2 linked regions of the Homo sapiens genome follow. The protein of the gene in region 2 purifies or fractionates together with the protein of the main gene of each other region. This does not show direct contact. Each region holds a gene or a part of one and is shown on either strand. Other genes may lie near its edges.

The links.
Region 1: the proteins of GOLIM4 (region 2) and PACC1 purify together in Homo sapiens (co-immunoprecipitation; one large-scale study listed by IntAct). This does not show direct contact.

Annotation. Positions count from the first base shown.
Region 1 is NC_000001.11:212,380,387-212,383,886, forward strand, and holds part of PACC1 (proton-activated chloride channel), read right to left. Parts: intron 1-3,500. UniProt on the Homo sapiens protein: Chloride channel gated by pH that facilitates the entry of chloride ions into cells upon exposure to extracellular acidic pH. Involved in acidosis-induced cell death by mediating chloride influx and subsequent cell swelling.
Region 2 is NC_000003.12:168,085,925-168,089,424, forward strand, and holds part of GOLIM4 (Golgi integral membrane protein 4), read right to left. Parts: intron 1-3,500. UniProt on the Homo sapiens protein: Plays a role in endosome to Golgi protein trafficking; mediates protein transport along the late endosome-bypass pathway from the early endosome to the Golgi.

The sequences.
Region 1 (3,500 bases), on a different chromosome or scaffold from region 2:
ATTTGTCCTATGGAAACTTTAAATTTAACGTAGTAAAACCTTAAATCCTTTTCTTTACGGCTTTGGGTTTTGCTTGCTGAGGAAAGCCAAAATTATATCAATATTCTCCTCTATTTCTTTATAGCACTTTTTAATCTTTTTTACATTTAGATACTTTATATACCTGGCTTTAAGCTCTGTATATAGTGTGAAATAGGGCTCTAACTCCTACTTCCCAAACAATGCATAGAGACAGGTTTTGAAGCCTCTTCCCCTCCCTCCTTTATCCTATACTAAATTCCATGCAGAACCAATATCTATGTCTGCTTCTGGCCCTAGCAGAGCCCACACATTTGTCTGTCTCTGTCCAGTACTGTGCCACTTTGATTCCTGTGGTTTTTCCACTGTTCTGAGATCTGGGAAGGTGCTCTCCCTACTACTCTTCCCCATCCCCAAACTTGTCTTGGTTATTTTTGAACGTGTTCTAAGTATGCTTTAAGACTAGCTTGCTTAGTTCCACAAAAAAATTCACTGGGACTTTTAACTGTGATAGAAACTGAATTTATAGATTAATTTTAGAAAAAAATGTCTTTTACATCAACTTTTATAAATAAATGCTCTACAGAGATTTGAAAAAGAGTGAGTACACTGTCAGTTACAAAGTTTTGTGCCCCCACATGTATACACACACATACATACTCTAAATTTATTAACTGCACTATTCAATTCTTATCCTTTCTAGTTTTTGTCTATTTGATCTGTGAATTTCTGAGAGGGGTGTTTAAATCGTGCTCTAAAGTGATGGTATTTTTTACTTCTAACGGGTTTTGCTTAAAATATATAAATGTCATGCTGTTTTGTACATAAAGTTTTGGAACTGTTCAGTCGTCTTAGTGGAGAGTATGGAGTTGAACCTCTTATCAATATTAAACATCCTTCTTGCAAACTTTTGCACGTGGAATTCCACACTATTAATATTGTCACTTCTGGTTTTCGTTGCATCTTCTCAAGACAGCTTTGTCCATCTATTTATTTTTCAACCTTTCTGTACCATTTTGTTTTAAGTGTGCAACAGAAAGCACTGTCCCTGGTTTCTATTATCCATTTCTTCCTTTAGTACTAGAATGGCTTTCCCAACCCAGATTTCAGCAGAATCCACTCCCCCTGCTGGAGCCTCATCTCTGCCCTCAAATGTAGCCACGTGATAAAGTTCCTAATGTGCGAAAGAAAAGGGGACTCATTCAACTCCACCCCATTTCCTGAAAAGGGAACTGCTTGCCCTCCACCTTCCCAGGCCTGGGCATGTGCACAGACACACACACACACACTGCACACACACACACACACACACACACACACACACAGCCCACATGGACCAGAACAATGCCCAGGGGACAGCACAGTGACACACACACACACACACACACACACTGCCCACATGGACCAGAACAATGCCCAGGGGACAGCACAGTGACAAGACAAAAGTCATGGCTGGACTATCCTATGAGGCAGTACTGCCCACTACGCCACACGGCCTGCATGCCAGGACTGTTCTCAGAGAGAGAAGGAGGCTTCTCCCTCATCTCAGCCATTGTATTTGCAGGTTTTGTTTTTATTTGGTAGCTTAGCCTATACTCTGACTAATACACAATTTGTTAGCTGACACTGGAGTGTTCTTGTTTTTTTTTTTTGAGACGGTGTCTCGCTCTGTTGCCCAAGCTGGAGTGCACTGGCGTGATCTCGGCTCACTGCAAGCTCCGCCTCCCGGGTTCAGGCGATTCTCCTGTCTTGCCCTCCCAAGTAGCTGGGACTACAGGCACGTGCCACTACACACGCCTGATTTTTTTATTTTTATTTTTAGTAGAGACGGGGTTTCACCATGTTAGCCAGGATGGTCTCGATCTCCTGACCTCGTGATCCACCTGCCTCGGCCTCCCAAAGTGCTGGATTACAGGCATGAGCCACCACGCCCGGCTGGAGTGTTTTATGGTTGCAAAAAAAATCAAAATGAGGGAACAGCCAAACATTTGGGCAGTGGGAAAATGGCGGGCAGTAAGGAAATAGATAAGGATCCCGCAGGCTGGAAAGGTGGCAAACCTTATTGTGCCAGAGCAGAGCATTTGGTAAAAAATAACTACCATTAAATTGAGAGCATGAAAGAAAGCACCAGAAAATCAGCAAAATTCCGAAGATTTTACAAATACAACAGGATGAGACCCTCGACTGGGGTCACTTTCACATGAACTTGATTAGATGCGAACAGCCAGAAGCCTACACATTTCTGAAATCTCACTGCAAACATAGGCAGTGGCAGGAGGCAGGTAAGAAGCCGCCCTCCAAGTTTGCAATTGTTTAGCCCTAAAGCTGCTCACACAAGCAGGAAGTGAGTGGCACAAGCTGTGCAGCCACCAGGGAGGGCGTATTTTCTAATGTCCACTTCAGATATGGCCACAGAGCATTACCACCAAGGCAGAAGCTCCCAGGGGACGAGGCCAGAGCACACAGGAGTCTCTTTCTGAGGGCAGCAACAGGTTCAAACCAAGGAGCTTACTTCATGCCAAGAAGGCGTCTCACCGGTCCCACCCTGCAGGGTTCCACCACTGCTGCAGAGCAGAGCTGCGGGCCCTTCCCCTTCTTCCTTTTCCAAATGGGAGCTCTACTGCTCTCATCATATTCTTCCTCCACTGCTATATGCTGGTTTGGGTAGGAAACTTGGTGGATAGGGAGGAGATAACTTCTCTGTTAGTTTATAGCTTGTGGACTTCAAGAAATTGATGGAGGAGATGAACCAACACTCAGACTTGGGGGCAGTAGCTGCATTCAACTTCATTTCCATAAAAACAACTCTCTCTTTGTGCCCTTATTTCAAGGGTTTTTACACTCTTTAGTCGAATTATGTAACTATTGTAACAAGTGCAACTGGCCTACACAGGTTTGGAAATGACCCTCACTGACTCCTCCTAAGCATACACTTCAACTGGGGGAGGAGAGGAGGGCATCCAGAGAATAGGCACCTAGTGGGACGGAAGCAGCCACGAGTTTTCATTAGCGTGTTTTACAGAGAGATGAAGGGAGCTGGGAATCCAGACAAAGAGCTTCTATTATACATATAACTCCACATTGGAATTGTTTAAAAGTTGCTTTCCTTTTTGTTTTAATTAGCTTCTACTTCCCTATTCTAGAGTCCATTCTATTTGTTCATCTTGGTCCTTTTCTGTCATTGGTTTCATGCAAATGTCTGGTGACCATTAATTCTCCATTCTTATTTATGAATGAAGGATTAGGTTGACTAGTATAGGTCTGGGTTTTGGTTTCTTCCAAAGTAGTAAATTTCTGTTTCTCTAATAGGCCTCTCCCTTGCATGGGAAAGCTAAGTATGCTCTGTGGAAGCACACTGAGTTTTCCAGTGTGTTTTACTCTGGGAAGAGTCCTTTCCTTTAGTTCTCTCTCCTTTTCCATTGTAGAAGTCTGCTCTGTTTCCTATGCCTACACAAAGAATCATCTTCCCTTCGCTTCTGTAG
Region 2 (3,500 bases):
ACAGATAAAGAGGAAGCATACTTGAAGAATTATAGTTAAAGATTGTATGGATACCTAAGGGGCCTCACCCACACCTGGATCAAATTTGGATGGCATCTAGATTTTGAGGTGATGACCGCCTATACAGTAAAAAAAATTATTTTTCATATTTTAATAAAAGTGATGTTTGACATCAATACAATTTAACTTGTTTTATAGCATCCAAACCTCTAAATAAAATATAAAATAATTTAAAACATTTTCTGTCTGTTAAAAGATTGAGCTACTAATGCAGAAGGGCAAGCATCATAGATTTCTAATATTAATATTATTTATTAATAAATCTCACTAATATAAAACTTGATAAACTTCTCTAAACCAAATTAATCAATTATCAACTGCCAAATTTTAATCTGTTTATAATATTTATTTGACAGCATCATAGCTATTATCAAGAGAACACATAAGCAATGTCAAAGCTGTCCTAAATATCTTGATTTGCAGATTATTTTTTCTGTTTGTAACAAAGATTCCAATTAAAGGAGGCATTTTAAATGAGATGTGAACTGGAAAATGAAATGTCTGACTCTCCTAAAATGATTATAATTTTTTTAACTTCATGCACTCCCAAAGAAAAGCAAATAATATCATTTCAATGTTCTATAATGCCTATCCTTCAGAATGACAGCACATCTTAATTTTCTATTCACTATCATATTGTGACATTTTATGTATGAAAAATAGTTAAAGCAGTATTTTTTAAAATGTCATACGGCTATAGAGAGCAATTTATTTCATGCCCATGTCCCTCCGGGCTATGAGCCTATTTAGTAAAGCTTATCAGTGAAGGACAATGACTGACATGTCTTCTGCATATGCACTCATGGGCCAATAAAAACAAAGAACACAAATATACCATTCAGAAATACACAGCACTGTTTAAAAATAGCAATGCCCATTTCTTCTCACAGAGAAGAGGGTCCTAGTCTACAGAGACAGCACAGAGCAGTGAAGGGGTATTATCTTGTACTGAGAGTCAGAGTATGTGGGCTCTCAGCTTAGCTTAAGCTACCTGGTAAGTGACTTATCCACCTTAGAATTCAGTTAACTAACTGTAAAATTCAGTGTCTGTATCCAACTTGATCAGTCAATGCATTCCTAAACTTCAGACATGCAGGCACCCCTCAGGCGAGTTCTTACTACACTCATGCAAAACCTGTACAGTTTTTTTGAATCCACCAAATAATCACTTAAATAAGTTTATTTTTCCTTAAAATAAACTTTAAACAGGAAACTTTTACACCACTACTTTATAAATGAAAAATCTGATTTACATAGCATTAATGATTGGTAATAGATTTAATTTTAAAATTAAATACAATAATACAACAAAACAATTATCAAATTCTAGCTATCAAGTTGTTGGCTGCCTAACGTCTATTCTCTTTGGAAAAACAGAGAAGCAACTCTCTAGGAGAGAGATTCTAGCATCAGACTGAGAATTTCTCCATTACTTGTCAGGAAAGCATTGAAAGGAAATAAGTTTTTCATTATATGATTCACTGTCATTTCAGGCAACATCTACATGCCACATAAAATCAACTCTAGTATCAACCAAAATCATCTTTCATACCAGCAGCAAATTTCTTGTACCCTGGAAATGCTGCATCAAATAGTACACCCGTTATTTCTGATTCTAAATTTTATCATGAATCCCCATATGACCCACCTAACCTACTTTCTTAAAACCATTAATACTGTCATGAGAGACACTAAAATAATTTTGAGGGCAATGATGCACTATGGAAAAAGTTACATTAGGTTTCTAAGCTTAGTTTCATCAGGCTAGATCTTGACACTGGCAAGTTAATTAACCTCTCTAAGCCTCAGATTGCTCATTCAGATTAAAGTGCTAGTGTCACAGTTAAATGACATAATGCATGTAATAAGCTTAGCATTGAACCCGAACATGGTAGGTACTCAATAAATGTTATGGATTAAAAATAATTTAATTTTCTCAAATAAGTTTTCAAAATTCTACTAAAATTCACTCCAAAGAACACTGGCTAAAAAGAAAATATAGTTTATCATTTTTCTTTTATAATAAAGCTATATGATATATAACTTTCACTTCAAAATAAAGCTATAAAACCCATAAACCATCTACTGGCAAAAGTAGCAAAACCACTTTGTCCTTAATGATAAAAGAAGAACCATTGGCTGTCAAAATGAAAAACAACAACTCTTAGTTGCTATCATGTAAAGCATTTTCAGGTTTTTTCCACCCCAAGAACGGCTCAAAAGGGTAGAAAAGACAGAGTGAGAATATCTTAATCAAAAAGTTTCAGCCAAGTAGGGCACATAGTGAAAGGAGCCACTTTTAGGCCAGCACTAATAACACTCTTACCTACTAGATGTAGTAAAGGCTGGGCAAAATAAAAAGAAGCCCAATGTTAATTCAACAACAGTAGTTCTGGTCACCTAATAAATGGTAGTAGTAATATTCTCCAGGACTCATACTCGTCACTTCAGATGCACTATTTCTAATCCATACAAGTTTGCAAGTTAGACATTGCTAACCCAAATTAAAACACGAAGAGGCTGAAGTTCAGAGAGGTTATTTGCCTGCTCAAGGTCACCCTGCTGGTAAATGCCTGAGTTGCACTGAAACCACATCTGATGCCCCAACCAGCTCTCCAGTCACCATTTCCTGCTGCTTTTCTTTTAGGACATAAAGATGTGAACAAAACTCTTCCTCAGTACTTTGAAAAGTCACCAGGTGATATGTGTCCCCTTTTCTTTCCCTGCCCTCTTCTGGTTTCTCTCCAATCCTTTGCTTTTTGATTCACACCATATTTAGTCAGTATTCATTTCCCCAACTCCAATTCACTTATTCCTTCAGCCACAGTAATGTGGTATTGTACCCCAGCCCTTTTGGAAACTGTCCTTCCTAAGAAAAGAAAGAATAAAAAGAAATCAAGGCAAGGCTTCCAATCTACTTGGAACTTAAACTAAAGGCTCCCAGATAACAAGTAATTCTCTTACACAGCAACCAATTATTTACCTGGACACCAGTACTCTCATTAGAGTTGGCATGTTACATATTAGAGGGATGACTAAGGTGGGCACAACGTGTGAAATCGATTATAGATTATGTGCAAATCATACATATTCAAAAGAATGCTTCACTGAATTAGAGCTTCAAAAGGTATTTGGAAGCTTTTATCTTTTATTCAGGGAAGGAATTTACACACAAATAAAAATTACTGAACTTAAGAGTATTTTTGTTCCATATTCTAAATGGTACAGGATCAAGCAAAAATGATAGTCTCTTCATTTAACTCTAAGTTGTACTTCAGTGAAGATGTCCATTTAATAGACAATGTCTAGTTCATGTTTTAAGTTCTAACGCTGCACTTGAAAATTAGTACACCTACCACACATTGCCCACACTTGTGGTCTAAATTGCTGAGGTCTATGAACCACTCTGTTGTATATGTTTCCTCAATCATCCAAAATGC